Regions from separate parts of the Homo sapiens genome. Here region 2 is linked to region 1. The links come from fine-mapping of genetic effects on gene expression. A gene starts in region 1. The other region holds a variant in brackets. All regions are shown on one strand. Distances are from middle to middle.

Region 1 (5,367 bases):
CATCCCAAATCATGTTTTGCCACATTGTTAAGAGGCTGTTTCTAAAGGTTTTTTGTTTGTTTGATTTTTACTATCATTCCTTCCAAAAACCGTCGTGGCTCAAGAAATATGTCTTAGAGTAAGGAAAAAGGAAATTGCCTTTTGATGACAAGCTTCCGCCCCGACTTTTGGACACTGAGACCAACATGTTACAGCAAAACATATTAGCCCAACTATGTTATGGATGTAACCTTATAAATTGAAATTGCTTTCAAGATTGGGAATTTTCAGATCAAAAGAACATGGAAAACACACTACTTAGTTTTAAAATGTATTTGTCCAAACTTGCCAAAAGTTTTAAATAAAATACTTTAAAGGAAATCAAGTTATTGTCATATTTATACTAGATTTGAAATACTAACAATTTCTGAATTTAGGAATAAAATAAGATAAGTCCATTTTTAAGTCAACATTTACAGTATTCTTGTTTTGACAAATACAGATGTTCATGAGGAACCCTGGGGAAAAAAAATCTAATTTAGATGGTCTAGTTGCCGTTAAACTGGAAAGGAGAGGACAGATATATACAGAAAATCCCCATTTCTACAAATGTGTGAGGCTTAGAATGCACCAGTTCTCCAATACAAGCTAATCCCATTCGTTTAAGGAGCCCCTGGCACAAAGGCACCCACTTGCTAAATATATGCTATATCGCAGGTTTGCAGAAACCACCCTGCCCAGGTAGACCCAAAAGAACCACAGATTTCTTCCCAAACCATATTCCAGGATTTCTTTTCTTTCTCCTGCATTCTAAAGAGCAAACAAAGAAAAGGTGCTCGCTCCTCACACTTCTCTAAATGTTTTAACAAAAGGCTGCTGAATAAACACATTACTCATTTAAAAATTGAAAAGAAGTTCTATTCCTGATATGAAAGCAACCAGATTTGCATTTTAATAGTTGTGGGCGAGCGCCACCTGGCGGGAGCATCCGGAACGGGCGGCGTTCAGCACTGGACAGCTTCCCGAGCCGGTACGGGTTTTACCGCTTGCTACCCAAGAACGATTCGAGACCCGTGATGGAATATTTTTGATCCTGTTTCTGCCGCGGGAACGTGAGTGGTATTAATGTGTGGTTGGCCGGTCATGCCTTAGAGGATATAAAATCTGAGTCACGAATCATGCCTGGATCCCCAGGACTGCCCCGGGCATCCTCCCTAGTACCCCTCCCTCCCCTAGCACACCTAACACACCCCCCAAAATGAGGAAAACAAGAATTGTGCACCATCTTTAGAATGGTGCTGTAGCTGTCCCTCTTCTCTCACTTGCTAATCCAACCTTTCAGCTTCACACACCTCAAAAGGAGTGTCTTCGTCACCCAACTTCCCAGCCAGGGAAACAGGCTGTCCCTTCACAGAAGTCGCCTATTCCGCTTCCATTTTAGTACCAAGCAAGGAAGGCTCTAAAGCATTTCCAACGGAATGTCCTTCCAGCGGCCCTTAACCTCAGACGCAGCTTGTGCAAAGACGCTGTACCTCCCCACAGGTTCGTTCTTTTGCTCTTTCTTTCTTCCTTTCCTTCTTTCGGTGAAATAATAAATGGGCACAGCTGTTGCTTAGCGATCCGAAACCAGCCTGTTCCTGCGTCCCACGGGCTGATCTCAGCCTGTCCCCGCAATCCCAGCCACCTCAGGCCGGCGTGGTTACACCAAAAGCAATCGGTGCTAAGAAACTTTAAGGTGATTTTGAACTTGGAAGTACACCTGCAGCACTCCCTTCTCTTCCCTCCGCCGCTACTCTTGGGGGGGGGGGGGCTCGGGGGTGGAAGCTGCCTGCGGTGGGGCTTGGTGATGTGTAAGACCCTGGACTGTGGTGCCCTCCAGCACCCGCCAACGTGCCTTTAGGAGCACGGCAGGCACCACCCCCCCGCCCCCGCTCCCCCTACTCTGGGGAACTACCTCTGCTCACCGCCTTCCCGTGGCCAAACCCAAATATGAGTTCCCCGAACTTTTCAGGAGCGGACGCGCTCACGGGTCAAATCCACTCCCCTCCAAGGGCCTTAACACGGGCGCCCAGCTACCTCGGAGAAAAGCCAGCGGGTAGGGCGGAGGTATTGCTCTCGGTCATCAACGCAAACATCCCCTCGGGTGCCTACAGCGGCCTGCTTAGGGGAGCAGCGTGTTCAGAGCAAATGGAGAGCTTCCTGTATCTCCGAGGAAAAAAGAAAAGCCGCCGCCCCGGCAGCCTCGGCCTGCTGGGGACCTGTCCTCCCCACTAAAAGCGCGCGCTGCCCGAGGAGCTGCCCGGGAGAGAACGCTCCACCCCGGGCGTCGGTGCCGCTCCTCGTCTCGCCGCCCCAAACACTCAAGTGGCAGATTCCGACAAGTGGGAGGCAGCAAGTGGAAATATTCGCAACAACCGCGGAAAGTTACTCCAGCCCGGGGGGCCGGCAGGAAACTGAAGCGGGGAACTTCGCCAAACGCGGGCTGCCGAGGGACGCGAGGGGCCGGGCTCGCTGGCCGGGGCGCGCGGGGACACTGCTTCCCGCGCCTGCAAGCTGAGACCCGGGTTCCGGCCATGGGGACCCGCGCCCCCGCGAGCCCACACAACTTTCTCCTCCGAGGGCCCCGCGGCTGGGGGCCCGCGCGCATCCAGGAGGGAGCGGGGAGCCCAGGGGAGCCGGGCGGGCGCACTCACCTGCGGCGCTCTGAGCCCGGGCGCCGGGCAGTGGCGGCAGCTGCAGCCTCAGGAGCAGGCTGAGGGCGAGCGCGGCGAGGCTCGCCATCCGGGCGGCGGCGGGCAGCTCAGCCCCTTCCCGCGGGGGCCGGGGCCGGGACTGGGGCGGGCGCGGGGTGGCCCCGCATCGCCGGCGCGGCCGCTGGCTGTGCGCGCGGCTGGCTCCGCTCGGGCTCCCGGAGCCGGCGCTCCTGCGTTCCAAGCCGAGGCGCGGCGCGAACTGAGGCGGGAGGCTGGGCGGGGGCGGGACGCGGGGGGCGGGGGGCGGTGTCCCCCGAGTCCTAACGCCGCCGCCGTTGCCGCCGCCGCCGCCGCCGCCGCCCGCCCGGGCGCTCCGCCTCGGCCGTGCACACACCCTCACGCGCACGCCCGCGCCTGGCACACGCCCGCGGCTGGCACACGCGGGCTCCCCCGCGCACCCTCTCCGGGGCCGACCAGCTCGGGCCGCTGGCACAGTCACGCGCGTCCACACATCACCCCCGCACCCACACGCCGGGCAGGGTCCTCGCCTCTTCGCCCCGCGCCGCGCCGCGCAGCCAAGCATCGTCTGCCCTGTGGGGGCGCAGGTACGGGGGCGGTGCGGGGAGGAGGAAGCTGCAGCAGCCGTTTGAACTCGGGGTGGGGAACAGGTGAATGGGGGTTCGGTGGCGAGAAGAGGGAGGGAGGGAGCAGCCCTCGCAACTCAAGATAAGGGGCCAGGTGAATTGCGAAAGCGGGTGGGGGCGTCTGCCCAAAGCTGGGGCAGGCGGCTGCTGGCCAGGGTCTCGGGCACACCCTGAGATGAGAATTTCATCTAAGAGCGCGCGCGCGCACACACACACAACCCACTCACACTCTTCTGGGCGCATCGCTGACCGCGCCACAATCGTCGTCCCCCTCAATTAGCCGCCCACCCCACCTTCTTCTTCACCCACATCTCTCTCTTGTCCCCACCACCACGCGGAAGGGGGCGCAGAAGGGGCATGAGGCATCCCCCCACCCCCTACAATTTTTCCCTGGCAGCCTTCCCTTTCCTTTTCTAGGGAGACAGAACCTTGTAGCTTTTTCCCTTTTCTTCTCGGTCTTAACAAAGACCTGGTTGGGGCTGAAAGCCTAAAACCATAGATCAGGGTTGGAGCTGTCCCTGGCAGCCCACGGCCCACAGCCTGGCTCTCTGCTGTCCTGGGAGGCAGCTGGTACCTGAGTCTTGGCTGGGGGTCTGAGATGTAAAAGCCAGGGGCAGGGATACCCAGAAATGCTTAAGGGATTCACACTTTGTGAACACTTTGCTACCTGGCCAAAGCCCTCCTTCTTCTGTGTCAGCACAGCCCCCCACCCCCATCCTTGTTGGGGTACCAGGGACTGGACTGGGGAGACTGTAAGTGAATTGTGAAAATCAAGCATGGCAGGGTTTCCAAAAGTGGGGAGCCCCAGGCTCTGGACCCAAGTTGGCATGGCAGAGAACACAGGGCGTCACTCTGTCAGTCCCCAGTTCCCAGTCCCCACTAGGTAAAGTGGCCCAGTTCCCTGGCATGGAAGCCCAATTTACAATCCCAGGCAAATTCTTCCACCCCTCTCCGGACCCCGACTCCCACCACCACCACCATGACCGTGACCACTTTCAAAAGCTGACGTGCTTGGACTAGCCTGTTGGACCAGCCAGTGCCTCCCACACTTGCCTGGTCAAAGAACTACCAGGAAGATTTCTCCAAGTCCTGCTTCCCAGACCCCTGCTGGGGAGAGTGGAATTTGGCAGGCCTGTCGGGGGTGGCCTGGGAGTTGAACCTTTTACAAGCTGCTTTGGAGATTAATAATTCTACCAATATTTATGGTGCATTTAATTGTGTGCCTTACTCTGTGCTGTTCTCTGGGGATACCACAATGCTATAGCCCTTAGGGACAATTGGAATGGAAAGATCCCTTCTGCTCAGAGCTGAGCTTCCAGCTGTTTGCTCCATCACTCACTCATTCTAACCCTGCCTTGGGCAGATGAGCAGTTAGGAAGTGTGCGAGGAGAGGCCTGACCCAAGACCACCACAAGCGACCCCAGTCATGGCAGATCCCAGGGGATGACCCGGGTGGGGAGATTTCTAAGCCACTAAAGAGCTTGGTGTCACACTTGTAACTTGTTGCCACTTTCTTGGGCTCCTGCCAATTCATCCCCTCTCTCAAGCTTTCTGGAAAACTATAAAATAGCAGTTCTCACAGCATCCTCAGAGCAACGCCCTTTGGCACCCCCCTGCACTCCTGCTTTAGGGATGTGATATCACTGCAGACAAATCCCCCAGGTCTGAATGGGGTTCATGTGGCCCCGAGGGGAAAAAAAAAATTCAGTAGTCACTGAGCTGGTGGAGTGGGACCTGATCCTGCACCAGGACTTACCTGCCCAGGTGCACCGTGGTCATGAACCGTGACCCTCTGTGCTTTCTAAACCTCCCTCTACTCCGAGAAACTGCCCCCTCTCCTTCAGTAGCACGTGCTGCCACCTGCTGCCCGGCCAGGCTCTGGCACCCACAGCACTGCCACGCTTTTGCACCGGCCAGTCCCTCTGCCTGGAAGCCCTGCACTGTATCATCTCCCTGGGAAACTCACACTAGCCCTTAGGGCTTCCCTTTGGAACTTTGGCCAGCGGGCCCTTCCTGCTCAAGGCATGTTCCCCAGCGCAGGTCACTGTGGT
Region 2 (5,367 bases), 620 kb before region 1:
CTTCGCCTCTTGGCAGCCACAGCTTGTGTCCCACATATCAGCCAGGAGAATCTCATTAACACCTGAGTTAGAGCCTGGTGCTCTCCTGTATTCGTTTGAGCTGTTATAACCACATACCATAGACAGGGTAATTTATTAGCAACAGAAATTCATTGCTCACAGTTCTGGGGACTGGGAAGTCCAAGACTGAGACTCCAGAATATATGATGTCTGGCGAGGGTCTGTTCCTCATAGATGGTGACTTTATGCATGCTCACAGGGCAGAAGAGGCCGGGGGCTCCCTCAAACCTCTTTTACATGGGCACTAATCCCGTTCATGGGGGTGGGATCCTCCTGACATAATTGCTTCCTAAAGGTCCCACCTCTTAATACCATCACCATGGGGTTTAAGTTTCAAGATATGAACTTTGGGGTGGACACAAACGTTCAGACCATAGCACATCCTTCATTGTTTTCCCATTACTCTTTGCATAAAGAAAACTATCCCTGCCCTGGCCTCTGCTGGCCACCCTCTGGCCTCACCACCCACCAAGAACCCTCACCCCTTACCTTCTCTGCTGTGGCCACATGGGTCTTCCCCCAGCTTCCACCCACAGGCCATGCTCTCATTTACTCCAGGGCCCTGGCACATGCCTGGAATGCTCTCCTCACATTCTTGTTGGCCCCAACATCTCTCCCTTGTCCTTTCGAGCCCATATAAAATGCACCTTTCTCAGGAAAGCCCCCTTCACCTCTCAGGCAAGGTCCACTTCTCATGCATTCCCATACTGTATTCTTCTCCTTCATAGCACTCATCATGATTACAATTAATTAACTTTTTAATTAGTTGTTTAGCTTTTAATCAAAGTTTGGTATCTATCCAGGAACTTGCACATAGCACAATCTCTATGAACTTTCACAAACTGAACACACCTGTGTAAACACCACCTGGAGCAATAAAACATTCTCTGCCTTCTCGGGCATCCCAGAAGCTCACCCATACCTCTTCCAGTTACTAAGTCCCCTAAGGCAATGCCTACCTTGACCTCTAACACTAGAGATAAGTTTTTGTTTTTTTTTTTTTTTAACATCTAAACACAATTGATAGCCTTTTTTTTTTTTGGCATATATGTCTCCATTAAAATATAAGCTCCATAAGAGCAGGACCCATGTCTGTTTTGTTTGCCATCCTATTCCCAATGTCCAGCACCTTAGCTCAACAAATATTTGTCAAATTACAGAATGAATTAATTAACAACTAATTAATGTTGTAGGAATTGGGCAACAAGGTGTAGGAGGTACAGTGAGCAGGGTGCCCACAGGAAGATGGAAGTAAGAGAAACAAGGTGCATCTAGCCAAGGAGGGGCCAGCAGGAAGGTCAAAGGAATGCCCCTGGCTGCACAAGCCCAGCCTGCACTGGGCAAGGCAAGCACCCTGGCCACTAGGGGCCTTCCACAGTGGCATGAGTCCACCCCCCACCCACCCAACCTCCAACTCCCTGCCCATGATGGTCTGGATAAGATACCCTTCCTCCATAGATAGGAGCTTTTCTGGAAGGACACAAGCTGTTGAGCTCCAGAGAGGGATTGTCCTTGGCAATAAAGAGGGGGCATTAGACAGTGTTGTGGTGAGAATAAGCTGGCATCTGTTGGTCTCAGACTGGGAGAAATTGTAGCCTGTAGCCCAAGTTTGAATTGAAGGACACTGACTGGGTGACTACCCCATGATCTAAGTTCTGATTTCACCAGATCCTGCTTGCCTCCCTACTTTCCCTCCTTCCTTCCATTCAAACTTCTGTCCACACTTATCAGAGCAGGTTCTCCTATGTGGGGGATGATACAACCCCGTTATCAGCACAGTGGTCTCAAAATGGCAAGACGGACCCTTTCTTTCTTTCTTTTTTTTTTTTTTTTTGAGATGGAGTCTCACTCTGTCACCCAGGCTGGAGTGCAGTGGCGCAATCTCAGCTCACTGCATGCTCCGCCCCTCCAGGTTTAAGCACTTCTCTGCCTCAGCCTCTGGAGTAGCTGGGATTACAGGCCCGTGCCACCACGCCCGGTTAATTTTTTGTATTTTTAGTAGAGACGGGGTTTCACCATCTTGGCCAGGCTGGTCTTGAACTACTGACCTCGTGATCCACCACCTCGGCCTCCCAAAGTGCTGGGATTACAGGCGTGAGCCACCGCACCCAGCAAGATAGACTCTTTCTATGCTTCTGACTGAGGGCAGTTTGGGCTCCCAAGTTGGAGAAGCATTGAGCCTGCCTATGTGGGTTGCAGAGCCAGGCAGAGCATTTGACATTTCCGGTTGGAGGGCCATGGCAGCCAGTATTTTATTTAAAACACTCAGAGTTTACAGTCAAAAACCCGTGAGTCTGAACAAATTCTTTAACTGGCAATTCCCTGCAAAGGGCTCTGCAGTTTGCACTATTTCAATCATGTG[T/C]TCAATCAAAAGGGTATTGGAGACGTAACTGTACATTATCACTATTGACATTTCCCAGCCTACTCCACTTTGGTTAAAAAGAAAGTGTCCAAAGATGCCACTTAATAACTTTGGGTATCATGAAAATGTCACTTTGGCAAGCAGAAAAGTGGATTTACACACCCACCAAAGGTGACCTGCTTAGAAAGAGACAGCAGGGATTGTTTCCTGGCCTCCAAAAGAGACAGTGCACCCAATGTCCCTGCAAGTTACCATTGCTCCAGGGGATGGAGGGAGGGAGAGGAAGAACAAAGGGCAGTGGCAGCCCAGGTGCTACTCAGCCCACTGGAGCAGGCTCGGGTGGACAGAAAGGCTTCTAGGGCTTCAGCAACAAAGCTGGGGTGGGGGTAGGGGTTGGGCGAAGAAAGGTGATATGGTTTGGCTCTGTGTCCCCACTCAAATCTCATCTCGAATGGTAATCCCCACATGTCGAGGGAGGGACCTGTTGGAAGGTGATTGCATAATGGGGGCAGTTTCCCCCTTGCTGTTCTCATGATAGTGAGTTCTCAAGAGATCTGATGGGTTTATAAGTGTTTGGCAGCTCCTCGTTTGTTCTCTCTCTCTCCTGCCATCCTGCCATCATGCCATCATGTAAGACGTGCCTTGATTCCCCTTCATCTTCTGCCATGATTGTAAGTTTCCTGAGGCCTCCCCAGCCATGCAGAACTGTGAGTCAATTAAACCTCTTTTCTTTATAAATTACCCTGTCTCTGGTAGTATGTTTATAGTAGCGTGAGAATGGTCTAATACACAGGGAAAAAGGACCGACTGGTGCAAAGCTGATAAAATGACTGCATCCGGTTCTGGAGTCCCAGATGGGGGTAACACACACATAGAAAGACGCAGGAAGGTGGGTCCCAGCCAAGAGACCCGTCCCTTGGTCAAGGTGATGGGGGGCAGCAAGTGATCCTGTGGCCCGGTGAAAGCAAGGTCAAGGTTTTGGAAGGACCGTCAAGTGTTAGCAGAGCTACAGCTGGACAGAGAAGGAAGAAGAGGGGCCATTTTCCCAGAGGAGAAGGCTGTGAAGAGCCAGCCAGGCAAAGTGGCAGGGCTCAGTTAAAAACCGGTAGAATGGCAGGCTGAGGCATGGCTGCAAAGACTGGGTTATCCCCTTCTCCACTTCCTGGGTTTCCATCTCAGCAACACGCACCAACCTCCACAATCTAGGTGGCAACCTCAAATCTTTCTGTAACCTCACTTCCCACAGTGCTTTGCACCTAACCCAGGGGCAGACAAATATTTTCTGTAAAGGACCAGACAGTAAACATTTTAGGCTTTGCAGGCTCTGTTTATTGGAACATTCACCCTACTCAACTCTACCGTTGTAGCGTGAATGTTCCGAGAAAACTTACAACACTAGGCAGTGGGCCACATTTGATGCATAGAAAACTGCTTGCCAACCCCTGATGTAACAGATTGCCAAGGCCTGTCGATGTTACCTTCTAAAGATCTCCTGAACCTGCCCACTTTTCTCCAGCGCCCACACCCTCGCCACACTAGTCCAGCCACAATCTTCTGTTGCCTAGATGACCCCAGCAGCTCCCTCCCCGCCTGCCTCCTCCATTCTGCTTTCACTTTTGTCTCCTCTACCCAGCAGCCAGAGTGAGCATATAAAATGCAGTTCTGATCCTGTCACCTCTCTGCTTAAAACTCTTCAGAGGTTCACCATCGCTTCCAGAAAAAGATCAATACTCCTGACGTGGCAACCTGTCGAGACTCAGGACCGCTAGGAAATCAGCTCTTGTTTACCCCTCTATCCATTACACTACGATCCAGCTGGGGTAAGTGCCTGTTGGAGCATCTGCATGAGTTCTCCCTCCTGGGCCTTTGTCCCTAGATAATCTGGCAGGGGCGCACTTTCTCTCCATTAACAATTCCACCCTTCCCTCTCCTCATTTTGACTCATCTCAGTTTAGGCATCACTTCCTCTGAGCAATCCTCCCTGATGTCATGAGGCAGTGCTGAGTGCCTTCTCTGGACCCTCTGTTTACTTGCCTGTTAAATCCTGAACATCTGGAAGGGAGTCGTGTTCAGCAACATATCTACGCCTTGCAGCACGGTGCCTGGCCTGCAGCTGGTGTTCCGTAAACAGCTGCTGACTGACGGGATGCATCGGTGAGTCAATCAATTAACTCTCTCTCACAATAGGAGGATGAAGCTCAGAGAATATCCAATTGGCCATCCTTCCCCAGAGGCCAGAAAATGCTGTGGCTTGAGTTCCCTGGGGCTTTGCCTGCCCTGGTTGGGATGGCTTTCTGCCCCAGAGTTCTCTGGAACTTGCAAGTCTGGAGTTTTCTGACCCAGGAGTTATCTGTGTCAGAAAAAGAACCTGGCTTTCAGAATCTTCTGTGTATTATAAGGTGGACTAAGGTTTAGAAAGACACAAAGGAACTAATACGTTTACACATTTTCCTGGGTAAAAGCATAAGTAAATTCTCAATCATCTTTTCTTTAGTATGATTATTCATTTATTAATTTCTTCACTTATTTATTCATTCTACAAGTGTCCCCTGAGCTCCCAAGGGGTTTCTGCCCCTCAACTAGCTGCTTCATCCACAGAGATGGCTGGTACCCAATTCTTGCCTTACCGTCAGATGAGGAAGACAGTCCATTTTGATACAGTGTGGCAAATGCTATCATAAATGAATGGTCAGGGACAATGTCAGGGAGTAAAATGAGGGAGAGTAAAAATGACAATAAAGTACACAAGAAAGTTCAGGTCAAGCAGTATTTTAGAAACAAGTAGACTTAACAAGCTGAAAAGAAAACAGGCCATTACCAAGGAAGAGTATATAGAGGCAGTTAAAAATAAAAGTAGATAGGTCAGGTTAATGTCAACAATCGCTATAACAGAACAGTAAAGAAACATCAGGCTCTTTACAAAATTGGATCACAGAAGCATAATA

Which allele goes with the higher level. Alleles are on the strand shown, and positions count from the first base shown. SD is a standard deviation of normalised expression in the study named.
For the expression in pancreas of the gene that starts at base 2,933 in region 1, allele T in region 2 goes with a lower level than allele C (small effect, 0.29 SD a copy in GTEx).

Evidence for each region. PIP is the estimated chance that this variant, and not a neighbour inherited with it, causes the effect.
Region 2: its variant is the best candidate, but not a certain one, in a credible set for the expression of PTPRT in pancreas (GTEx, PIP 0.68).

The regions. Positions count from the first base shown.
Region 1 is chr20:43,186,974-43,192,340 of GRCh38, forward strand. It overlaps PTPRT (protein tyrosine phosphatase receptor type T), which reads right to left and starts at 2,933. Exons shown (of 31, transcript NM_007050.6): 1 at 2,673-2,933. The coding sequence starts at 2,760. PTPRT-DT (PTPRT divergent transcript) reads left to right here and starts at 3,092. Exons shown (of 3, transcript NR_186414.1): 1 at 3,092-3,277.
Region 2 is chr20:42,571,873-42,577,239 of GRCh38, forward strand. All of the region lies in intron 7 of PTPRT (protein tyrosine phosphatase receptor type T), which reads right to left. Among named protein-coding and RNA genes, the nearest start is that of PTPRT-AS1, 390 kb to the right of the region's middle. The variant T/C (reference allele first, on the strand shown) is at 2,423.